Linked DNA regions of Homo sapiens. The protein of the gene in region 6 purifies or fractionates together with the protein of the main gene of each other region. This does not show direct contact. Each region holds a gene or a part of one and is shown on either strand. Other genes may lie near its edges. The genes, in order: TIMM9, PEDS1, LYRM4, PGM1, TOR1AIP1, NIT2 and RNASET2.

Region 1 (3,500 bases), on a different chromosome or scaffold from region 6:
GTCATAATAGCTTATAAGACATTTTATAGGTCTTAAATAGGTCATTTTATAGGTGCAATGGGGAAAATACTGGATTTTGAAGTCCAAAGACCTTAGTTAGGCTCCAGCTGTCCAGTTACTATCTGTATAAGTGACCTCATGTAAGTTTCTTAAGATTTCTGAACCATCCCTCCCAGAATTAGTAGGAAAATCATAAGGGAAGTGTAATGTATACTTATACCTGGATAAATAAGGATAGCATGACATTAAGTATTTTTTTTAATAGTAACACATATGCCAAAGAATTGTAACCTCAGAATAGAGGAAACTAATTTCACTTACTAAAAAGGAAGAAACTTTAAAAAAATAAATGATTAGCCAATAGAAGTTTACATTTCATTGAAAAGACTATTAGAACTTGAAGGGGACTTAGTAATCATATTACCTCATTTTTCAGGTAAGAATCAGGCCTTATTGGAGACATTCAAGCAAAGGTTGGACAACTACTTTTCCAGAACAGAAAGGAAACTCATGCATCAGAAAAGGTTAGAGCTTGATGACTGATAAGATCTCCCTTTATTCTTAAGTTCCCTGGTTCTAGGATATATTTTGTTTGCCACAAGAATAACAGCATCATTGTAATCATTCCCAAGATCTAAGCCAGTGATTCTTGAATTTGCTTATTTCTTCTCTCCCTCTCCAGGTTTCAGGGATATAATCAGAAGGTAACCCCTGATGGGTCTTTGCCACAGTAACATAAATTTGCTGTAATATATGGAAACTAGGATCAAATAAAAGAACAACCACATTACTGCTACCTGTTCTCACCATCAGGTGGTTTATGTGGCTGGTGGAATTTGTTAGTCTAAGCTTACTATTAAATAACTGCGAAGTGAATAGTGAAAAATTTAGAAGACCTCAAATTAGCAAGTAACTCTGAAAATCATTGATTTACTCAGTCATCTCCAGTATTTTCTCTGAACCAGTTGCCTACAATTATGTATACCATAATCTTTTTTTTTTTTTTTTTTTTTTTTTGAGACAAAGTCTCGCTCTGTCACCCAGGCTGGAATGCAGTGGCACAATCTCAGCTCACTGCAGCCTCTGCCTCCCAGGTTCAAGCAGTTCTGCCTCAGCCTCCCGAGTAGCTGCGATTATAGGCATGTGCCACCATGCCCGGCTAATTTTTGTATTTTTAGTAGAGACGGGGTTTCACCATGTTGGCCAGGCTGGTCTCAAACTCCTGACCTCAAATGATCCACCCGCCTTGGCCTCCCAATGTGCTGGGATTACAGGTGTGAGCCACTGTGCCTGGCCTATACCGTAATCTTGATAGATACTGGTGACTACCGAGGATAGCTTTAGAGATTTAAGCAGACTTAAGAAAACTTCTGATTGTTAGCTCTTGAGTTCAACTGTTAGGTCTGGAAAAAAAAAATACCAAATTGGTCTGGGTGCAGTGGCTCACGCCTGTAATCCCAGCACTTTGGGAGGCTGAGGTGGGTGGATTACCTGAGGTCGGGAGTTCAAGACCAACCTGGCCAACATGGTGAAACCCCATCTATACTAAACAAAAATTAGCCAGGTGTGGTAGTGCATGCCTGTAATCCCAGCTACTCAGGAGGCTGAGGCACAAAATCACTTGAACCCAGGAGGCGGAAGATGTAGTAAGCTGAAATTGCACCACTGTACTCCAGCCTGGGTCTCAGAGTGAGACTCTGTCTCAAAAATAAATAAATAAATAAATCTCAAAAATAAGTAAATAAATAAATAAAATACACAATTGAGTGATTCTAAAGAAAATAAATCATAGTGTTAACATAGTGGTCTGTGAATGGTAGAACTATCTTTTGTTTTTCAAATTCTCAATAAATATATTACTTTTATAGTATGACAGACTTTATTTCACTGAAAAGAGGAAACATACACTGTTTAAGTAATGTATATTAATACATTAATGAATAAAGAAGATTCATACCAACAGCACTTGGGGCATTCCTCATATATGTCTTTTCAGATTTTTTAGTAACAACCATCATTTATCACCATGAGATATATAATAAGGACAAGATGTGTGTAGAGGCAGCACAGGGTACCAGTATGAAACTTAGAGAACATTTAAAGATTTCATACTTTCGACTGGGCACAGTGGCTCATGCCTGTAATCCCAGCACTTTGGGAGGCCGAGGCAGGAGGATCACCTGAGGTCGGGAGTTTAAGACCAGCCTCACCAATGTGGAGAAACCCCCGTCTCTACTAAAAATAGAAAATTAGCTGGGCGTGGTGGTGCATGCCTGTAATCCCAACTGCTTGGGAGGCTTAGGCAGGAGAATCGCTTGAACCTGGGAGGCGGAGATTGCAGTAAGCTGAGATTGTGCCATTGCACTCCAGCCTGGGCAACAAGAGCGAAAACTCCGTCTCAAAAAAAAAAAAAAAAGATTTCATACTTTCTGTCTCTCTGACCTCGGGTTGATAAGTCAATAAATAAGAATTTTAACCCAAAGAAATACAAGGATGGAATTAAAAAAAAAAAAAAAAAGAACAGATTTTGGCATTATAAGAAGGAAATCAGCTCTGTGTTATTTTTTGATGTGAACTGTAGAAAGTCCAGTTTGCTGGGTGTCCTCCTGAGGTGCAGTGAGTGTACTGTCCTTATTCGACAATTCAAAAGGCTCAGGTCTAGTAGATGACCTTTTGAACTTTCAGCTAGGAGCCTATTGGTAAACAAAGTTCCTTAATGCATATTTTATTACCCTTGTATTTTTTTTCAAGTTCTCACAAAACAGTGATTTCATTTAATACTTCTTTAGAAGTTGTTTTACCAGTTCTTAGATCTTTTCAGACTGTTTTCTGAGTGGGAATCCAGAAGAACTCTAGCTTGGAATGCTTGCTAACAGTATCTACCACGCTGCATGTTGTTCTTTGGCAGGTACCAGAAAGTTATACAATAACATTTTTTTTCTTTATTATTAAACTTTTTATTTTGAGGTTAGTGTGGATTGAAATACACTTCCAACAATTAACACAAAGGTCCCCTGTGTCCTTTACCCAGTTTTCCACAATGGTAACATCTTACAAAACTGGAGTACAATGTCACTCACATCCAGGATACTAATATTGATACAATCAAGATACAGAATATTTCTATTACAAAGGTCTTGTGTTGCCTTCTTATAGCAACACCTACTTTCTTCCTACTCCTTCCCTCATCCATTCCTTAACCCTTGGCAACCATATGTTCTTCATTTCTGCAATTCTGTTATTTCAAGAATGTTGTATAAGTGGAATTATACAGTATTTAACTTTTTAGGATTGGCTTTTTTCCTCAGCAGAATTTTCCAGGCTTTTGCAAGTATCAATACCTCATCCTTTTTATTGCTGAATAGTATTACAGGTATAGATGTACCAATTTGTTTAACCATTCACCCACTGAAGAACATTTGGGTTTTCAGTTTTTGATTATTAAGAATAGAGTTTCTACAAACATTCACATATAGGATTTCCTGTGAACACAAATTTTC
Region 2 (3,500 bases), on a different chromosome or scaffold from region 6:
GGAGGTGGTGATGCGTTGTCAAATTCTGGAGGAGCTGTGAAAGGTGAGCTGCCAGAATGTGCTTCCAGGTTGGCTGTGGAGGTGAGAGAGAATTAGCTTGACTCCAAGGTTTCTCTCTTGAGAGATGGAAGGGATGAAGCTGTCATTCACAGAGATGGAGAGAGGTCATCGGCAGAGCAGGCCTGAGGGAGATGCTTGAGATGGCCGCTGTTGAGCTAAGGAGAGGTGTTGAGCAGGAAACTGGAAATCTAGGTCTGGAGGCAGGGAGAGGCAGCTGGAAATAGCAATCTGGGGGTCCGGCCGGGCATGGTGGTTCACACCTGTAATCCCAGCACTTTGGGACGGTGAAACCCTGTCTCCACTAAAAATACAAAAATCAGCTGGGCATGGTGGTAGGCGCCTATAATCCCAGCTACTGGGGAGGCTGAGACAGGAGAAATTGATTGAACACGGGAGGCAGAGGTTGCAGTGAGCCAAGATCGCCCCATTGCACTCTAGCCTGGGCGACAGAGTGAGACTTCCTCTGGAAAAAAAAAAAAAAAAAGAAAGAAATCCGGGGGTCATCTGTGTCAAGATGAAGCTCCTTATCTCCTAGGCTGGCTGAGCACCCCCAGGGGCTGAGTCTCCCGTGTTTCCAGGCTGGGGAGGAGGAAGAGCCAGCAAGGGAGGCTGGGATGGCGCTGCCAGGGAGATGGGGGGAGAACCAGGGAGGTCGGGGGAGAACCAGGGAGGGCTTGCAGGGGCCAAGAGGAGAATGTGTTTCCAGGAGTCTTGGGGGTCGACTGGGAACAGCCACCGAGTGGACCAGCAAGGTGGCCAGTAAAGGGACCTTTGGATTTAGCCACGTGGAGGTCATCAGCCACTGTGACACGCACATCGTTGTCGTGAGTGAGTGGGTGAACAAGTGAAGGCCGTAGGAGCCCTGAGCTTTTGTTCCACGTGGAGAAGGGGGAGGAAGTGTTTGGGTTGTGAGTTGGCCCTTAAAGGAGCAGAGTCCTTCGTGGACCTTGGGAGAAGCCTTCCGGGCAGAGGGCACAGTGAGTCCAGAGGTCAGGGATGAGGTCAGAGAAGTCCCAGGCTCGGGTCGTGGCCCGTCCTGTGGCTGGAAGTGGAGTCTGGATCTGACTGAGCTGGAAGGCGGTAGAGACAGGACTGGGACCCAGGACCGAAACCCATGGATTTGCCCTCAGTGCATTCACTTGGCTCCTCAGCCACGCCTTCCATCTCCACGCCAGGCCTTTGAGGTGGGCAGGGAGGGGTGAGGAAGTCCCAGCTGGGTGACCTCTGGGGAAATGGAAGCCCGCACGGGCCCAGCGACTACCTCAAGTTCCCCCGTGAGTCAGGGTAGCCTGGGGTGAGCCGTCTCCCATCCCTCTCCTTGTCCCAGTGTTCTGCGGGGAAGGGTGGTAACCAAGCCGAAGCTGCCCCCAGGGGGAGCCGGCTGCCAGCTGCCACCACCCCAAAGCTGGGACAAAGAGGCTTCTGTGTGCCTGTCTGCCACCCCTGCCCCCATTAAAGCAGCCTCAGACAGCAGCCTGGAGTCACTGCCACCGGCAGAGGCCGCAAGATCACGGAGCCAGGGGGAGGGCTCCTGGTCTCCTAAGATGATTCCTGACTTCTGTCCAAAGCAGACATCCCTCCCTGCTGGGCAGCGTGCAGGCGCCAGGCCTTGACCATTGGACAGATGGCAAGACTGAGGCTCAGCAGAGAGCTCACAGGAGCTGCGTTGGGGGGATGCTTGCTGTGTCGTGGGACCCACCGGGCCCTTTACCCAGCAGCCCATTTTATTAACTTCTCATAGTTAAGGGAGGTAAATGTCCCCATTCTCCATACCTGGGTGCGAAGTCTCCCTAACCCTAACCCTAAGGTTGCATCATCCTGAATGACTCTAGCGAGTCTCTGGCTACTCACCAGCAGCCCTGCCTTGCCCCTGCCACCGTGTGACCTTGGGGAGTTCTTACCCTCCTCTGGAAGGTCAGGATGGGGTGGGGCCTGTTACTGTGGACATGAAGTGAGATTGTCCACTTTTTGAAAAACAGACTTTATTTTTTAGAACAAGTTTTCAACTTACAGAAGGATGGGGCAGATAGTACAGAGAGTCCCCATATGCCTGGGGCACGCAGTTTCCTCCATTATTCACATCCTAAATCTTACATTAGCGGGGCACATTTGTTACAGTGTGTGCCAGTGTTGATACATTATCATGAGCTGGAGTCCATGGCTTATTCAGATTGCCTTAGTTCTTCCCTAATGTCCTTCTTCTGTTCCTGGATCCCATCCAGGGTATCACATGGCCTTTAGTTGTCATGTCCCTTTAGGCTCCTCTTGTCCAGTTTTTTTTGTTTGTTTGTTTTTTGAGACGGAGTCTCACTCTTGCCAGGCTGGAGTGCAGTGGCGCAATCTCGGCCCACTGCAACCTCCGCCTCCCAGGTTCAAGCGATTCTTCTGCCTCAGCCTCCCGAGTAGCTGGGACTACAAGCGCGCGCCAGCACGCCCGGCTAATTTTTGCGTTTTTAGTAGAGATGGAATTTCACCATGTTGGCCAGGATGGTCTCAATCTCCGGACCTTGTGATCCACCCTCCTCGGCCTTCTAAAGTGCTGGGATTATAGGAGTGAGCCACCGCGCCTGGCTGACCTTGACGGTTTTGAGGAGTGCTAGTCAGGTGTGTTGTAGGCTGCCCCTCTGTTGGTATCTATCTGATGTTTTTCTCATGATTAGACTGGGGTTACGGGTTATGAGGAGGAAGAGTTCAGAGGTGAAGTGCCATTTTCATCACATCATAGCAAAAGTACAGACTGTCAACATGACTTATCACTGTGATGACTCTGATCCCATGACTAAGGTAGCAGATGTCAGAGTTCTCCACAGTTAAGTTACCCTCGGCTGGGTGCGGTGGCTCACGCCTGTCATCCCAGCACTTTGGGAGGCACTTTAGGATTTGTGAGTGGGTCGCTTGAGCTCAGGAGTTCACTGGTCAGCCTGGACAACATGGTGAGACCCTTGTCTCTACAGCTGTAGTCCCAGCTCCTCACGAGTCTGAGGTGGGAGGGTCGCTTGAGCATGGGAGCTCAAGGCTGTAGTGAGCTGTGAATGGCACCGCCACACTCCAGTCTGGGCCACAGTGGGAGAGTCTGTCTCAAAAAAACAACAAACAAAAGTTACTCTGCTCCCCCCACCCCGCCTTTTTTTTTGAGATGAAGTCTTCCTCTGTCACCCAGGCTGGAGTGCAGTGACTCGATCACGACTCACTGGAGCCTCAACCTCCCAGGCTCAAGCAGTCCTCCCACTTCAGCCTCCAGTAGGACCACAGGCACATGCCACCACACCTGGCGAATTTTGTTATTTTATATACAGACAGGGTTTCGCTGTGTTGCCCAGGCTGGTACTGAACTCCAGGACTCAAGCAATCCTCCCACCGTGGCCTCCCAAAGTGCTGGGATTATAGGCGTGAGCCAATGCGCCCAGCCTTCCTCCCCTCTTTTTTTTTTTTTTTTTTTT
Region 3 (3,500 bases), on a different chromosome or scaffold from region 6:
AGGAGGGAACCATTACAGCATTCATCTCGAAAGTGCATCGAAAATTTGAATCATGACTCTTGATTGCTTTAGACACATTTAATTCCAAGATCTAGAGCTGCTTTTCTTTAGGTAAGGACTTTGGAGAGCTGGGGAGACAAACAAGTATACATAGCAGAATATCCTGACCCTGGGCCTTGAGCTCAGTTGATATAAATTGTTGAGTGTTTTAAGCTATTTTCTCATTTCCTTAAACTTTGGAAGACCTTAGGTCTTTACATTCCAAACAGTACTCCTTTTTTCCTAGCTATTCTAAGCTAGTTACTAGCTTTTAGAAAAATGAGTTTAGCAATAGCTACTGTTGCCCATTTTGTTTTTCCAAGAAGCCCATGCAGCATACGAAATGAAAAATTTAAACAATAGATGATTCCTGGAGGTAAATTCATGTTATAAACCAATTTTGCCTGTGGAACAAATATTAGAATTAAATTATTTTGTCCCCTCTTTGCTGCCATCATTGCCAAAAAAGAAACTGCTTTGGAGGAGTATGTGGTTGTCAAGAAGAACAGTGATGCTGTGTTTTATAAATAGCCATTAGGCTATGCAAGAAAGTGCCAGAAATTGCTGTTAATTTACCTAGCTGCTATCTAAAATCTTGTTAGATTAGCAGCTGCACCTGAGGAGAGTCTGTATCTGATGTATTCCATTTGTAAAATCCTCCCATATCCCTTTAGAAGTGAATGAGCCCCAGTTATTTAGCAGCTGCTAGTACATGGATTCCATGCCCAATCGCTGTAGCCCTTTAGGATTGATACTGAGCGCTCAGCAGCTCCTCTGAAATACTCCAGCTGGTTCACAGAGGGTTAAGATCAAAGTCTCAGCAGTGTCTTACATTCTAAGTACCGGTTCCTAAACTCTTCCCTTCTCCTTTATGATTCCTAGTATCATAAGATTTAGTTTTACTCTTGCTTTTAAATGCAAATAGACCTGACATTTGAATTTTTTAATGTAAAATGCCTTTTTACTTTAAAAAACTTTATCTGAAACAATTTGTCCTTTTTAAGATAAAGTTTCCCAATAAGTTATATGAGCTCCCAACACCCCCTCCGCGCTGCTCCCAAGGAAATTTATATCCCCTCCTCTCATTTCTTTGCCTGTATTTCCATTCTTCTGTTGCTAAATATTACTACTGGCATCACATGGATTCTTTAACCGGTGCTCCAAGTTAAAAGCAGAGCAGTCTGTGATCATTAAGAAGACGAGAGAGCCAGGCACTGTGGTGTGTGCTTGTAATCCTAGCTCCTTGAGATGCTAAGGCAGGAGGATAGCTTGAGCCCAGGAGTTTAAGACCAGCCTGGGCAACGCAGCAAGTCCCCATCCCCCAAAATTTTTTTTAATTAGCCAGGCGTGGTGGTGGGTGCTTATAATCCTGGCCACTTTGGAGGCTGAGGCAGGAGGATCACTTGAGCCCAGGAGTTTGCAATTGCAGTGAGCTATGATCATGACACTGCCTGGGCAACAGAGGGACACCCCATCTCTAAAAAAGAAAAAAAAAACATAGAGAAAATGGTGTCTCACATGCCTGGCTCAGTCTGCTTCTCCTTAGTCTTATGCCTTTCAATCTGGAGTAGTTGGGGTAGAGCTAGAGATAGGCCATAGCCATCTGAGTATGAGGCTGTGTCTAAGGACTGCTGAGCTGTCTGTTGTGGCTAATTATCCACACCACTCTACCTTCTGTACACACACTATGGTGTGACTGTAAGGATGCAGGATGAAGGCAAGGTTATGGCATGAGGAGAGGGAACAGTAATTGCATTAAGGCATAACAAGTGTTAAGAAGAATAGCTTTCATTTATTGAGTCTTTCTATGTAACAGGCTTTGGGCCAAATTCCAGACACACATTATAAAGCCTAGTCCTCCCAGCAGCCTTTAGCAGTATTATGCCTTTTTGACAGATGAGGAGACACGGCCTTGTGTTAAGAAGCTTGCCCAAGTTCACACAAACAGTAGAAGCTGGAGCAAGGCTACAAACCCAAGCCTGTCCGATGGGCAAGCCTTGCTCTGGAACTGCTGTCCTGTACTGCAAGTGAGCTGTCTGGTTGGGGGTGGGTGGTAGGCGTGTGCACTTTCAAGATGGAGGTAAAGAAAGCGTGTTGGCCTAATTCCACAGGTTCAACTGTGGTGGGATCCTAATGTGGACAACAGAAAGGGAAGTGAGAGCCAGAATATGGGACAAGGACTGGAAAGCATAGGTCACTATCTGGGTACATGCAAATACGATCGTCATGTAACCTCTGAATTTTTTCTTCCTTTCTTTTAAGACAGGGTCTCGCATTGTCGCCCAGGCTGAAGTGCAGTAGCACCATCATGGTTCACTGCCGCTAACCTCTGAGTTCTTGATTTGTCTCTGTACACTAAAGGTTCAATTATCCATGTAAATGGAATGAAGCCAGATGTGAATAAGGCTAAAGAACCAATAATCTAAGGAACACTTCAGTAGCAGTTTGCCATTTGTATGTGACTTGTTGAGTAGATTTATTTTCCTAAATCTGTTTGCTTAGTCATCCCAGAATGGTAGTGGATCAGCCTGCGCCACGAGCAAAGATCAAAGTGGATTATCCGTAGGGGAAGATTAAACAGTTAATTCTAAAGGAAAAACTTTAAAATTCATTTGAAAGCATAGCCTCAGACACGCTGACACCTTTTCTTTTTTTTCCTCTGAATTCATTTAGAACATATGCTGTCAGGAGGATAAGAGATGCCTTCAGAGAAAATAAAAATGTAAAGGATCCTGTAGAAATTCAAACCCTAGTGAATAAAGCCAAGAGAGACCTTGGAGTAATTCGTCGACAGGTAAGATGGTTCAATGATGTACTGTTTTTCATTAAGAGCTTTAAACTTCGACATATTCCCCTTGATTAGACAGCCGTGCTTTTGGTGTTGGTGATTTACAGAGCAGGATCATGAAACTCTGTTCCTTGTACTAATACAGACATGTAAAGGTGAACTCTCATATTTTCAGATTCAAGTTGAACTTAAAATACCAGCTTTCCGGAATTTCCAGGGAGTGTATCCTTCTGGAAAGCTGATACTTTTAAGTATGAGAAACTTCTGCATTAATTTTTTTGAAAGCTAAGTTTTTGTAAGATGTATCGCACATGTGTACTTGGATATATTTCAGAGTATAAATATATTCTCCCTTTCCTAGTATTTTTAATCATAATTCAGGATAAACAGAACGTGGCCCTTTTCTTGAAGACACCATTGTGGGTGGTGAACCTGAATTACGTTGCCACATGGGAGGTGCATCTGCAGGTGCAGATGGTGTAAAGTACAGCTGCTTGGGTGCTGACCCCATAAAGGAACCTGGAGGGTGTGTTAGTTTTCGTTTTGTGGAAGTGCCAAGGATCACCTTGACTTGTGCTTCCTTTTCTCATTCTCATGAGGTGGGTGGAGCATGTGCAGCGGCATGATCTCCTGCGTGGTCTGATAACATCCGCAAGAGTAATTAGAACGTCAG
Region 4 (3,500 bases), on a different chromosome or scaffold from region 6:
CATTGGGTGGACATGATCATAACATTGGATTTGGATTCAGAGAAATGGATTAGAATTTTATTTCTTCCCCTTACTAGATTGGGGAGCCATTTAGCTTTTCTCTGTACTCAGTTTTGTCATCTGTAGAAATGGGAATAACAGTCCAGCTGTTGAGAGGATTAAATGAATAATGAGTCTGAAAATGTTTTGTTAACTTTGGGGCACTGAAAGCCTAGAAACTTTTTTTCATAAATTATAGAAACAGTTATGCTTAGTCCACATCGACTTTTCTGCCTTGTGAAATAGGTCCCCAAGGGCTATATACTTGTCAATAATTTTTTTAATTTATTCAACAGATATTTACTGTATACCCGATTTCCATCGGGTACTTGGAATTCAGCAGTGAACAAAATACTTAGAATACTTAGTAATTATTCCTTATCATGCGTACTTCTATTTTTAAAAAGCATTAAAAAATTTTTGACAGTAGTACTTTTCACTAATTCCAATTTGCCTTTCCCCCAGTTAGTGTAAAAATCTAACAAGAATTTTTCTGGACCTCAGTATTCCAATTATAGAGAGAAAATATGGTAAAAAGGATATTAGATGAATTGTTTATGTATAAGAAATGAATAGGTGTAATTTCTCTGGACCTCAGTTGCCTGTTCTATAAAATGGGTGAGTTAGACTAGAGAATTTAAAAAATATATCCCAGATTTTATAGTCCGTGATCTCTGGATAGTCAAGAAAGAATTCAACTAAGTAAATTAAGCTCCTTAATCAGAATTATTTTATTAACTTTGGACGGATTCATTGATCTCTTTCTCTCTCACGTTACTGTTTTGTGGAAGGAATAAGTAATAACTACCTGACACCACACAGTAGCCCTGGGAACCAAGGCAAAAAAATCCCTACTTTATAACAGACAGAAAAACCTGGTCATTCAGAACAGCAGTCATGAACTGTCTAGAACCTAGAGTATCATAAAAACAAGGCCATGTCTGTTTTTGTGCCCTAAGCACCCAACTCATAGTAGAGACTGCATAAATACGTTTTGAACCGATAAATGAATGAGTTAACAGGTGAACAATAGCCAGAGTAGAATAAGGTTAGGAGGGGTTGTTCAGAGAAAGGGTCACACCCTTGAATTAGTCACAATCCTCCATATAAAAACTATTTTAACATGATTTTATTAATTATCAAATATAATTGCTAACCAAGTATTACAAATCAAATCCTTAGTACCTGCATTTATGATTAGTTAAAACTCCATTATACCTTCCACTTACTGAACAAAAGCGCTAGGCACTTTTGCATGCATTGTCTCACTTTAGCCTCAAAACAGTTATTGATAAGGTAGCTGAGATTCTGAGAGATAGGGCAGCTGGCCCTGTAGTCACACAATTAATAGCCAATAGAGGCTGGATTCATAGCTCATCTGTCTGATTGCAAAACCCAGACTCTTCTATTCCACCCCTCTGTGCCTAGGGTTTAGAAAACATTTCTCTGGAGTACCCAGAGGTCAAAAATGTAAAGCACAAACACCTGGTTGTAATTTCTTGTTGTTTATCATGTTAACTAGGGGAAAGAGCTGACTTTAAGATTAAGGGGACTGTTTGGCCCTTGATTCATAGAATCCTGGAGCCAGAATAGGCTGGCCTTAATTCCTCAGCATTTCTCATGTCTCAGAGGTGTCATCTTGCATATATGATATCTATTTCACGATTACAAATAAATATAGACTCTGCTATCTTGAGCTTCTAAAAAATAACTCTCTCAAGAGGGTGTATGCCACTAGGTCAAGAAAAGCCACCTGTACAAGTCTTTAACATCATAAGAAAGAAGTCAAAAAGAATTCTTGAAGGAAAACTCATCTTTATAGAATTTCATTTGTGATGCACTTTTTTCCTTGGCCCTTTTTCATCCGCACTGGGCCTCTTCTGTCAGGGTGAACCCAAAGGACCTTGGACCAAAATCCACTGCCACTGAAAGGAGGGAGGCAGAACTTAAAATAAAACAAAATTTAAAAAAAAAAATTGGGAGAGCATCAGGATAAACAGCTAATGCATTTGGGGCTTAATTCCTAGGTGATGGGTTGATAGGTGCGGCAAATCACCATGGCACATTTACCTATATAACAAACCTGCACGTTCTGCACATGTATCTTGAAACTTACTAAAATTAATGAAAAAAAAAAAGGCATTTTAGATGTAAAGAGTCAGTGTTTGGCGTCTTCATCTGGTCGGTGAAAACTTGGCCCTGCTTTAGGAAGCTCCTGTGGAGCTGGAACTCTGCTTAGTCAAAATCTCAGCAGCCTCAGGCAGGTCTCAGGCTGGGAGCAGGCCCAGCATTCACCCCAGAGAAGCCCAGGGAGCTTGGAGGAGAAGTGCCTGAGTCACGTGCTCCTTTCAAGAGAGTTCTCCAGAGATAACATTGCTTTTCATTTTACCTCCTCAGGATGTGGTGACTAAATGTTAGATAGCATCTTTCAAAAGCCTTTGAAACATCTTAGAGCTTTATTCTGTAGAAATGCCAAGATGGGTGTTTTCTGCTTATTCAGAAGCTCATAACCCTTCCCTGAAATCCTCCAAACCCTTCCTTTCATCCCTGGCCTGTTCCATCCCCAGTGACTGACAGGCCTGTATTTTTTTTGCCAGCTTCTTCTGAAGTTAGATAGTTTTGCGGGAGGGCCAAACAAATGATGAAGAAAGTGCTGACTGATAGGCCTTGGTGTGATCTGCAGTCAGCCCGTGGGCCTCAACTTCGTGACTTCTTCCAGGTATGATTACGAGGAGGTGGAAGCTGAGGGCGCAAACAAAATGATGAAGGACTTGGAGGCCCTGATGTTTGATCGCTCCTTTGTGGGGAAGCAGTTCTCAGCAAATGACAAAGTTTACACTGTGGAGAAGGCCGATAACTTTGAATACAGCGACCCAGTGGATGGAAGCATTTCAAGAAATCAGGTAGAAACAGACCGGTGTGTAAGTGAGAGAGAGACCTCAGAGCTTCATCTCTGACATCTCAAGGGAAAAATTAAAAAGTTCCTGTTGGCTATTTTTCTTTTGCTGCTGTGTTTTTCTAGGGTAGCTGTTCTTACCTGGTTTTCTGCTGTCCCACGTGACTCTCACATGCACTCGTTGGGACAGTGGTTTATGCCCTTGTTCTGTGCACTGTCCAGTACCCTCATTCTGGGATTCTTAACCTGGACTCCAGAGGGATTTTTGCACTCTCTGGAATGATATGCAAGATGATGTGTCCATTGTACATGCAGAAAGGAGCCCCAGAATCTAAGAAAGAGGGAGAACTGTGGGAACTTAGATGTCAACTCCTCTCTTTTCTGTCAGCAGATTATAGCAGAGTGACAGCATGTAAGTGGCATTATACTTATACGTTTCTCTCGTATGTTCTAATTTCTAAAGGAGAGAAAAATAGATGAGGCATTCCCAGACTTAGAAACGTTGACCATCGTCATTCGCAGCACATGAGTGGCACCCCACCTAACACAGCAGTACCTGGCAAGA
Region 5 (3,500 bases), on a different chromosome or scaffold from region 6:
CATTGAACATAGAAATATTATGGTAAATAAGACAGATATTCTCTCAGCTTTGTTTTCAGCCTATACTAAAAATATACTTTTAAAAAAGTGGATACATACGTTTTAATATTTTCATCAAATTCTAAGACATACTTTTTAAAAAATGCCCTTTGATCTACAGATATATCTTTTAATTAATGGTATGGCATAGTTTAACTGGATGGTTTTTCTTTCTCATTGATACATAAAATCAATAGTATCTTAAAGTCAATGAAATATATCTTGATCAACTTTTCATTAGGATACAATGAACTAACTCATTTTTCATTTCTAAATAGTATTTCTTTTTTTTTGAGATGGAGTCTTGCCCTGTCACCCAGGCTGGAGTGCAGTGGTGCAATCCCAGTTCACTGCCGCCGTTGCCTGTTGGGTTCAAGCGATTCTCCTGCCTCAGCCTCCCAAGTAGCTGGGATTACAGGCACCTATCACCATACGTGGTTAATTTTTGTATTTTTAGCAGAGACGGGGTTTCACCATGTTGGCCAGGCTGGTCTCAAACTCCTGGCCTCAAGTGATCCACCTGCCTTGGCCTCCCACAGTGCTGGGATTACAGGTGTGAGCCACCGTCCCCAGACTAAATAGTATCTCACTGCATGGGTATAATATCATTTATACGGGTAGATACATTTAAGAGTTTCCAAAGATCAAAGATTTGGAGTAAAATAGGGCAAATACATAAAATAATTCGAAGAGTAATTTTCCACAACTGATTTTTTCCCAGCAGCTAATTCATTTTATGTCTCATTTTATAGTCACAAACCCAGAACCTATTAAAAATTAAAATAAAAAATATAAAATTGAATTCTAGAAATACAATGATTTTAAAAAAGATTTCCAAAGGCTTTTTCTTTTTTTCTTTTTTCTTGAGACAGGGTCTCACTCTGTCGCCCAGGCTGGAGTGCAGTGACACAATCTCGGCTCACGGCAAGCTCCGCACTGCCCCCTCAGGTTCACGCCATTCTTCTGCCTCAGCCTCCCGAGTAGCTGGGACTACAGGCACGCGCCACCACGCCCAGCTAATTTTTATATTTTTAGTAGAGACGGGGTTTCACCATGTTGGCCAGGATGGTCTCGGTCTCTTGACCTAGTGATCCGCCTGCCTTGGTCTCCCAAAGTGCTGGGATTACAGGCATGAGCCACCACGCCTGGCCTTCCAAAAGTTTTTTCTTAAGAAAAGAAAGTAATGTGGAAGAAAAAAAAAGTTCTTGAAGATTTTTACATACAAAGATATTTTTGGTTGATTAATAACTAACTCAGATTTTGGGAGACTTGATTTAAAAATGTCAAAAGAAAAAAACAGTAGTAACAAAATAATAAAGGTGGCTGGGCGCAATGGTTCACACCTGCAATCCCAGCATTTTGGGAGGCTGATGTGGGAGGAATGCTTGTGCCCAAAAGTTTGAGACCAGCCTGAGCAAGATAGTGAGACTCTGTCTCTACAAAAAATTTAAAAATTAGCTGGGCATGGTAGCACGTGCCTGTAGTCTTAGCTACTCAGGAAACTGAGGCAGGAGGATCCCTTGAGCCCAGGAGTTCGAGGCTACAGTGAACCATGACGGCACCACTACACTTGCCTGGGTAACAGAGTGAAAACCTGTCTCAAAAAAAGAAAAAAGAAAATAATAAAGTTAAAAAAATGTCACCAATGATTCTTAAGCAAATCATTATTAGCATTTTGGTATATGACTTTCCAATCTTTTTTTGTTATACTTTCTCAATATTTGATCACAAAAATTTTCAGTTGTAAGACTGAAATGAATATTTATATACCCATAACCAAGCTTGCCATTAACTTTTTATTACATGTGCTTTATCACTTATTTATTCATCCTTCCAAACTTTTACAACAGAGTTGAAATTGTACTAATATAAAATTTTATGTCCTTATTAGAATAAGTGCATATAAATAGGCTCAAACTACTACATTAGTCTGTTAAAATAAAAGCAATCAACCCATTTATACTGCTAGCAAAGACATTCAACAAATCACAGGAAGTAGTAGTTTTTTGTTTGTTTTTTAAGTTCAAATTCAGGTTTGGGTATAGAGAATAATAACTCAATAAGCAAGGTCAAGTGGTAGAGAGATATCGGATAAGTTTTTTTTTAGCATTCATTATTCCTCTTGTTCAATATTTACGTTAAATTTCAAAAGAGGATCTTCAAAAATAGGAACATCATTTGACCAAGCTCACAGGAAGACACTGTAAACACAGCTTTACTTACTTTGTGATGACTGCCAAAATGATTCTATATATTGACTAGATGATCTGGTGGTTTTATCTAAAAAATAAAAAACAGTACACTATAAATAATATCCAACTTTTAGACTGTACATTTTACAAGACAACAGTGAGAAATTAATAAAAAGAGCAAAAATATTCGGGTAACTCCCAGGTGGTTAAAAACGTGGATGCATAATTTATTTAAAAAATTTCTAGGCTGGGTGCAGTGGCTCTTGCCTATAATCCCAGCACATTGGGAGGCTGAGGCAAGCGGATCACCTGAGGTCAGGAGATTGAGACCATCCTGGCCAACGTGGTGAAACCCCGTCTCCACTAAAAATACAAAAATTATCTGGGCGTGGTGGCGCGTGCCTGTAATCCAAGCTACTCGGGAGGCCTTAGGGCAGGAGAACTGCTTGAACCAGGGAGACAGAGGTGCAGCGAGCCGAGATCGCACCACTGTACTCCAGCCTGAACAAGAGAGTGAGACTCTGTCTCAAAAAAAAAAAAAAGGTTAAAAAAGTTTCTAAAGAGTCATGTCACATCTAAAATATTAGCTAATAACCACTTAAAAAATTGTTATGATACAGAACATGCCCCAAGGTAATGACATAATAAAACCTTTGAGTTGCGGAAAATTTTCAAAGTTTACAACAGTGGAGCATCTTGAAATCATTAATATCCATTTTTGCTTTAAATTTTTATTGCAAGTGGGCAATATTTTTGTATACTCTTTTTCTTTCTTTCTTCTTCTTCTTTTTTTTTAAGAGATGGAGTCTCACGTTACTGCCCAGGCTGGTCATGAACTGAAGGGATCCTCCTGCCTCAGCCTCCTCAGTATCTGGGACTATAGGTACCTATCACCATGCCTTGCTTTCAGTCTACTCTTCTTAAAAACATTTTTTCCCAAATAAAAGTAGAATTTATAACTAAATTAGTTTAAAAGTGATCAGGTTGCTGTTTTGGAAACAGACACATTGATACAAAAAGGTGAAGTGCCCATATTTTTTTTTTTTTTGAGATGGAGTCTCGCTCTGTTGCCCAGGCTGAAGTGCGATCGCGCAATCACAGGACCTGAGGTTTATGTACTTCCAAATAGTTATGCTGGTAGCAATGGCAGCAAACTATTGGCTATATAAATGGCTTAATTAACCTCTAATTTTTAGAGCTTCATGTAATATGTATGAACACTAATAACAGCACTTAGTGTTTACTATGTGCCAGGTAAGTGCTTTGCAT
Region 6 (3,500 bases):
GGGATCTAATTAAACTAAAAGAGCTTCTGCACAGCAAAAGAAACTACCATCAGAGTGAATAGGCAACCTACAAAATGGGAGAAAATTTTCGCAACCTACTCATCTGACAAAGGGCTAATATCCAGAATCTACAATGAACTCCAACAAATTTACAAGAAAAAAACAAACAACCCCATCAAAAAGTGGGCGAAGGACATGAACAGACACTTCTCAAAAGAAGACATTTATGCAGCCAAAAAACACATGAAAAAAATGCTCACCATCAGTGGCCATCAGAGAAATGCAAATCAAAACCACAATGAGATACCATCTCACACCAGTTAGAATGGCAATCATTAAAAAGTCAGGAAACAGCAGGTGCTGGAAAGGATGTGGAGAAATAGGAACACTTTTACACTGTTGGTGGGACTGTAAACTAGTTCAACCCTTGTGGAAGTCAGTGTGGTGATTCCTCAGGGATCTAGAACTAGAAATACCATTTGAGTAAGGTAACTTTTTAAAGAGAAGGTTCCATGGCTCTGGCTTCCTTCTACATCTGAGTTAGCCTGAACTATCCTATTTTTTAAAAGAAGGATCTATCTACTTGGGTTAGAAAAATGTCAGATTTATAATGTACGATTTACCTCTTTCCTGTCTATTGACTACAGGGCTGTTGATAATCAGGTGTATGTGGCCACAGCCTCTCCTGCCCGGGATGACAAAGCCTCCTATGTTGCCTGGGGACACAGCACCGTGGTGAACCCTTGGTGAGTAAGGCTAAGTGAGAATAGGCTCAGTCGGAGCTTGAGCTTGAGTGGTGGCTCGTTGGCAGATGGGTTTTCTGGTTCCTGAGCAGCCAGGCGCTCACTTCTCACTCCCATTTCCCCACATATCCTGCCAGCTTTCTGCCTGTCTCTGTGAGAGGAGCTTCCATTTGAAAACCATGTGAGAAGCAAATCACCCTGCTCTCATGATCAAGCACTTGGCCTTAGCCCTCTTCTGAGTTTCTGGTGACCTTCACTGTCAGTCATACTTGGATCACATGGGGAAACAAGGCAGCAGTGACAGGCAGGTTGTAGTAAGAGACTCTGAAATTTTTGGTTAAAATTTAAGTTGGCTGACTAGTCCCAGGGTAGGAATGAGTTACAGGGTGAGGACTTTGCTTCCAGCATAATGATCAGAGGAGCAGTCAGGATGGTTCAATAAGTGAAACTATGACCCTCTCCCCAACAAAAGGGTGAAGCATTTTATTACTCAGTGGAGCCAGCACATAAGCCTGCCCAGACAGAATTACAGTCATACGCTCATACGCATTCCTTACAGTCTACATTTGTACAGTTTACATCCTACTTTCACAACATGGTCTCAACTTGAACTCTCAGGAAATTGTTCTTATTAAGCCCAGTTTATAGATGGTAGAATTACAGAGGAAGCGACTGGAATTCCAGATGTAGCGGCTAGACCCAGTGTTTGAATCCAGGATATTTGCCTTCAGAACTTGGATGTATTCCACACTAGTTCTCTGTATGAAAGCACACACACACACTGGTATGTATGTCTACATTTCAGGATGAGTATACCAGTAACAAGACTGAGAAGAGTTAAATGTTACTGTGGGGTTCCTGAGGGTTCTGTCTTCTGCCTTTATAGGTAGGGCTCAGAGCTCAATGTGTGTGGTGGGGAGGCCTTGGAAGATATGACTAGTGTGAGATTCCAGTTGGCCTCCTGCACATTAGGCTTGGGGACATTGAAGGACTAAGTTGACTTGAAAATTTTCTTGAACTTGCATCAGGTTCCACTGTCCAGAAATCTTTGAATGCCAGGGCAAATGGGGAAGAATCAGAAAAGAATTCAGTTACGTGTCATAAATGGTGGTGCTTGTATTTGTAACTCATTTGTGCCAAAAGTCTGTCTGTGGCTATCTGGTAAACAGAATCAGTTGTTATGTCAGATTATTTTGGAGAAGGTTCATTTCTCTAGGTAAGGGTTTGAACCCTTGCTCTGGGCCAAGAGACTAGACACTGGAGATAGTTTCTTTTTTCTTTTTTTTTTTTTTGAGATGGAGTTTCACTCTGTCGCCCAGGCTGGAGTGCAGTGGTGCAATCTCAGCTCACTGCTGCAACCTCTGCCTCCCGGGTTCGAGCCATTCTCCTGCCTCAGCCTCCGAGTAGCTGAGATTACAGGTGCACACCACCACGCCCAGATAATTTTTGCATTTTTAGTACTGATGGGGTTTCGCTTTGTTAGCCAGGCTGGTCTCGATCTCCTGACCTCAAGCGATCCACCCACCTTGGCCTCCCAAAGTGCTGGGGTTACAGGCGTGAGCTACCGCACCCTTCCTGGAGATGGTTTTACAGGTCAGCCTTACCCTGGATTGATGAAGGAGTGTGGCTGTTCCCTAGTGCAGGGCTCCTGCCAGTGTGAGGTTACCCTCCATCCCCCCATGCCACTTCTACCCAGTCGCCAGAGGTTGAACTCTTTCCCTCAAATCTGAAACTGAAGCCCATTAACACAGGGGTTCAGGTATCACAGCCACCAGGGCAGAGACCCCAGCAGATCTGGGGCCCTGCCTAGGCCCAGCTTCACCACTCTCAGGGAGGGTAGCAGCCCAGGCAGGTATGAAGAGTGGGTCTGGACTGCCATTGTAAAGGGGGGGTCCACTGAAATGCACTCATGAGGGCATGAGATGGAGCTTCCTGTTGGTGGTAGGTAGCTCTATTGCCAGATCTTTATAATCATCAGATAACCACCGTCTCCTAGTGATTTGCAATTTATGAAACATGATCCATAATTTTATCACTAAGCCCTCACAGAGCTCTTATTTCCACTTTATAGATTAGGAAATGGAGATTTAAAATGCCTTCCCATAAGGTCACAGAGCTATTTAAATGATAGAACATAAATCTGTACGACTACCTTCTTGTTTTCAATCTCATACTTTCCCCTTTGGCCTGTGAGCTTGGGAGGAAAAAACAGAGACCTTGAATATCACCAAACATCAGTGAATCCACTCATTCTCTTCTGCATCTTTTTCAGGGGGGAGGTTCTAGCCAAAGCTGGCACAGAAGAAGCAATCGTGTATTCAGACATAGGTAAGATTTTCCTGGGCATGGTTTAGGTCTCTGATGTCCCCATTGTTCTGAGGCCAGACTCCATGGCTGGGAAGTCCCTGTCATTTGGAGGGGTTCCTTTATGCCCCTTCTCATTGATCTCTGGGGATATTCTAGGGTCTGGTTCTCTGGCCAATCCCTGGGGAGTGTATCAGCTTGAATTTTCTTGGTTTGGTTTGAAATGATGCCAGGCCATCTGTGCACCTAGATAAGACCTATGTTACTAAGTTACTTACTAAGACTCTGGTGGTTTATACAGTCAGGGGAAGAAATCCCCTTGGTTAGTGAGGAGTTGCAAATTATTAATAGTGCACTTTCCTGTTTTTTGCAGACCTGAAGAAGCTGGCTGAAATACGCCAGCAAATCCCCGTTTTTAGACAGAAGCGATCAGACCTCTATGCTGTGGAGATG
Region 7 (3,500 bases), on a different chromosome or scaffold from region 6:
GTGTGTCCTAGAACGGTGACTTTGCCCCTCCTGCCCTAGGAGATTTGGGTGTATTCACAGAGCAGCCATCTCCTGTCTCCGTCAGAGCAGTCTCTTCCAGGTTACTGGAAGGTCAGTTTCTGTCAGGCCTCACTTCCTTCTTATCAGAGGGTAGCCAGGTCCCTGCACTGGTATCTATTTAGAAATGTACATGGAGCCCCCAGCGAAATGTGCCTACATTGTGTGTTCCAGAACCGGAGGTACCCTTACCTTCTAGATATGTGATGACATGGCTCTCACGTCAGGCAGACTGCTGCACCCACGCTCTCGGCCTGCCGTGCAGGGATTTCACTCGTGGAGTGAGGCATCTGGGGGCTGTGCAGTGAGGAGCTTTCCATGTGTTGTTAAGACAACCTGTTAGCATTGTCTTCTCCCGCGTCTCCTGGCCTCTTCTCTCTTTAAATCCTTTTCTCTGTTTGTCTTAATCACATTAACGTCCTATTTATGTTTTATTCAATATACATTTAAAATAGAACTTACTATGTGCCAGGCATTGTGTTCAACACGTGAAATATTTAATCCTTAGAATAACCATATTGTCAGCATAATTTACAAAAAAAAAAAAAACAGCTGTATCAATGCCTGTGAATATTCGGCTTTACTCGCCCATTTAAAGAAGAGATTTTCAAATTGGCTCAAACCAAAACCTCACTTCATGGTGTCTACAAGACAGTCTGAAATGCAGAATGTTCAGAGAGAGACAAAGGTTTACCAGGCAGATGGGACGGTGAGAAAGTAGGTGTCGCAGTCCTGATCCTAGACTCAGTGGCCTCTGCGTCCCCCGCAGGCATTAAAGGAGACACAGGACGGCCTCTGGCCCTCTGGAAACAAGCTCTGCAGTAAGAGCCTGAGACAGGCAGCACCCAGCCAGGCCTGACAGCTTCTGCAGACAGACAGAGTGAGATGATGGGGGATTTGATGGAAGCAGTCCCTGTATTTTGTCTCTTCTGTAATGGAGGAGCTGAGCCCTCTTCTGCAAGCTGTGGGGAAGGCTAGCGGAGCCCAAGGGTCCAGGGTCCCCACCTTGTCATTGTCCCTCGGCCCTTCTCTGAGCTCATTTCTGTCTCCAGTGTTTTTCTGTTGGCTTGGCAGGGCAGGATTTGTTTCTGTCGGGAACTGATGATTTGTGTTTTGATGCCTGTGAGAGGGACAAGATCTGATTTGTTTTGCACCTGGAAGGGCGTGATTTCCTGCATTTGCTCTGCGTCCTCAGGGAGTGGGTGTACTTTAGAGTTGGACTCTTAAGCCTCAGAGTCCTTTAAATGATGTCAATTCTTTTTTTTTTTTTTTTTTTTTTTGAGTCATTTTGCGAACACAGGGATCAAGGCTTGGGTTTTATCTTCATTATTCCCAGAGGAGCTGGTGAATTTGAACAGACTTCCTATTCAAATTGCATTTATTTTATAGCCTTGGGGGGTCAAGGAAAGCAGCTCTTCAGAGGCTGTCTGCAGTCGGCTGGCCTTTGCGGTTTTTAAAGAAGCCATTCTTTTTTTTAAGTAGCGTGTATTTATTATATGAGTGTGAGCATTTGAGAGCGGATGGGGACGCCAACAAGGTAGCATCCTGGTGGGAGGCATGGGCTGCGGAGTGCTGGTTTCCTGCCATTGTCACGTCAGCTAAATGGAAGAAGGCACTGGTGAGGGGCTGGATGGTTCAAAACATGAGCACAAGCAAATGCTTGGCTCTCTTAATATTCCTATTTTGGCCTAGAGCTCAGGAGCAGGTAGAACATGAGCGTTTGATAACCTGCCTCAGATCATGTAAGTATAAGGCACTTATGAGCCGCAGGAGACAGAAGGGGAAGACTCTGCGTTTAAGGTTCAGTGATGGAGATCAGATCCAAGCACATGTTTTTACATCATTAAACAAGTAGGTCGTGCATTTTCCAGATTCAACTCAGGAAGATGCAACTCTGACCACACGGTTCTCGCTGTAACTGGGCGGAGGTGACTGAGAAATGCCTCCCATGTGAGCGGGGTCTCAGGCTCGTATGTGTGGAAGGAGGAGCAGGCCAGGCTCTGGGATCAGAGCTGGGGGTACAAGTGTCTCCCAGGGGGACAAAGGAGCAGGCGCATCTCAGGATGGAGAGCAGCCAGGAGGGGCAGCTGGCCCGGGTCTCAGCCAGAGCAGGCGTCTGCCTGGAGCATCTCTGCGGCACCATGGAAAAGAGGACCCGTGGACTAGGCCACAGGGATGAGTGGAACTTATGGTGGAAAAAGACACCATAGGTAAAAGCGAGACAAGAAAACCAGGTTCCCATGAAACTCCTTCAGACCAGCCCCTTCTCAGCAGGGCTATTGCTGTACCCAAGAGCATTTCTCTTGGCCTGGGAGGGGACAATGCTTTGTCACCTGGAAAGCAATCCCTCTCTCCAAGCTAGTAGTGGGAGATCATTATGCGCTTGAATAACTAACAGTAGCAATTGTATCATATTCAGAACTAGATATCTTTTCTTTTCTTTTCTTTTTTTTTTTTTTTGAGACTGAGTCTCACTCTGTCGCCCAGGCTGGAGTGCAGTGGTGCGATCTCGGCTCACTGCAACCTCTGTCTCCTGGGTTCAAGCAATTCTTCTGCCTCAGCCTCCCGAGTAGCTGGGACTAGGCACGCCACCATGCCCGGCTATTTTTTGTATTTTTAGTAGAGTTGGGGTTTCACTGTGTTGGCCAGGCTGGTCTGGAACTCCTGACCTCAGGTGATCTGCCTGCCTCAGCCTCCCAGAGTGCTAGGATTATAGGTGTGAGCCACCGCGCCTGGCCCAGGTATCTTATCTTTCCACCGAAACTTTTGCCTCCATCTCGGTGAATGACATCACCATCCGCTTATTCCAGGTAGAAACCTCAAAGTGAACTGGAAACTTTTTAAAAAAATTTTGCCTAAATTGTGAAAGTATTCTGAATTATATTCAGCTTATCCTTCTCATTACTGACTTAGTTCAAGCCTCAGTCTCCCATCTGGGCCATGCATTGACTGCCACGCCACCTGACTGTCAGTGCTGGACGCTGGCACCGTGTTTGTGCCACTCTCCGTAACCAACCATGGCTCTCTGCTCCCAGATCACACCTCCCCAGTATGGCGGCTCAGGGACATTCCCTCAATCCCTCCTGCCCTGTTGGCAGTGCCTCCACCCACTCCCCACAGCCCATGAGGGCTCTGCTTAGCACTTCCTTGTGCCTGGATTCTCCGCGCAGTTTGGGTGGCCTGGAGTGCTCTTCTGCTCACCTAGTTTAGCAAGTTCCATGGGATATCAACACCCAGTTCCATGGTTGGCCGTTAAGAGTTCTTTTGCAGTCCTGGGTGGCTCTGCGCCTCCACGCCCAGGGACCAGGGCCTCTTCTCTTCCAGCTCTTGTTGTGTTACATAGAAGATGCCAGCTGGATGGCACAGGGGAGGGCCGTACAGTGTAGATGCGGACAATGTGGCATAGGTGAGGACTGGACAGCAGAGACAGTGGCTGCATGATG

Evidence for each region.
Region 1: the proteins of NIT2 (region 6) and TIMM9 fractionate together in Homo sapiens (co-fractionation; one large-scale study listed by BioGRID). This does not show direct contact.
Region 2: the proteins of NIT2 (region 6) and PEDS1 fractionate together in Homo sapiens (co-fractionation; one large-scale study listed by BioGRID). This does not show direct contact.
Region 3: the proteins of NIT2 (region 6) and LYRM4 purify together in Homo sapiens (co-immunoprecipitation; one large-scale study listed by IntAct). This does not show direct contact.
Region 4: the proteins of NIT2 (region 6) and PGM1 fractionate together in Homo sapiens (co-fractionation; one large-scale study listed by BioGRID). This does not show direct contact.
Region 5: the proteins of NIT2 (region 6) and TOR1AIP1 fractionate together in Homo sapiens (co-fractionation; one large-scale study listed by BioGRID). This does not show direct contact.
Region 7: the proteins of NIT2 (region 6) and RNASET2 fractionate together in Homo sapiens (co-fractionation; one large-scale study listed by BioGRID). This does not show direct contact.

The regions. Positions count from the first base shown.
Region 1 is NC_000014.9:58,421,032-58,424,531, reverse strand, and holds part of TIMM9 (mitochondrial import inner membrane translocase subunit Tim9), read left to right. Parts: intron 1-436; 5' UTR 437-524; intron 525-3,500. UniProt on the Homo sapiens protein: Mitochondrial intermembrane chaperone that participates in the import and insertion of multi-pass transmembrane proteins into the mitochondrial inner membrane.
Region 2 is NC_000020.11:50,136,724-50,140,223, reverse strand, and holds part of PEDS1 (plasmanylethanolamine desaturase 1), read left to right. Parts: intron 1-3,500. UniProt on the Homo sapiens protein: Plasmanylethanolamine desaturase involved in plasmalogen biogenesis in the endoplasmic reticulum membrane.
Region 3 is NC_000006.12:5,215,951-5,219,450, reverse strand, and holds part of LYRM4 (LYR motif-containing protein 4), read left to right. Parts: intron 1-2,712; coding exon 2,713-2,833; intron 2,834-3,500.
Region 4 is NC_000001.11:63,648,911-63,652,410, forward strand, and holds part of PGM1 (phosphoglucomutase-1), read left to right. Parts: intron 1-2,758; coding exon 2,759-2,942; intron 2,943-3,500. UniProt on the Homo sapiens protein: Catalyzes the reversible isomerization of alpha-D-glucose 1-phosphate to alpha-D-glucose 6-phosphate. The mechanism proceeds via the intermediate compound alpha-D-glucose 1,6-bisphosphate.
Region 5 is NC_000001.11:179,902,785-179,906,284, reverse strand, and holds part of TOR1AIP1 (torsin-1A-interacting protein 1), read right to left. Parts: intron 2,320-3,500; coding exon 2,263-2,319; intron 1-2,262. UniProt on the Homo sapiens protein: Required for nuclear membrane integrity. Induces TOR1A and TOR1B ATPase activity and is required for their location on the nuclear membrane. Binds to A- and B-type lamins. Possible role in membrane attachment and assembly of the nuclear lamina.
Region 6 is NC_000003.12:100,351,757-100,355,256, forward strand, and holds part of NIT2 (omega-amidase NIT2), read left to right. Parts: intron 1-647; coding exon 648-746; intron 747-3,015; coding exon 3,016-3,071; intron 3,072-3,420; coding exon 3,421-3,500. UniProt on the Homo sapiens protein: Has omega-amidase activity. The role of omega-amidase is to remove potentially toxic intermediates by converting 2-oxoglutaramate and 2-oxosuccinamate to biologically useful 2-oxoglutarate and oxaloacetate, respectively.
Region 7 is NC_000006.12:166,925,551-166,929,050, reverse strand, and holds part of RNASET2 (ribonuclease T2 precursor), read left to right. Parts: 3' UTR 1-3,500.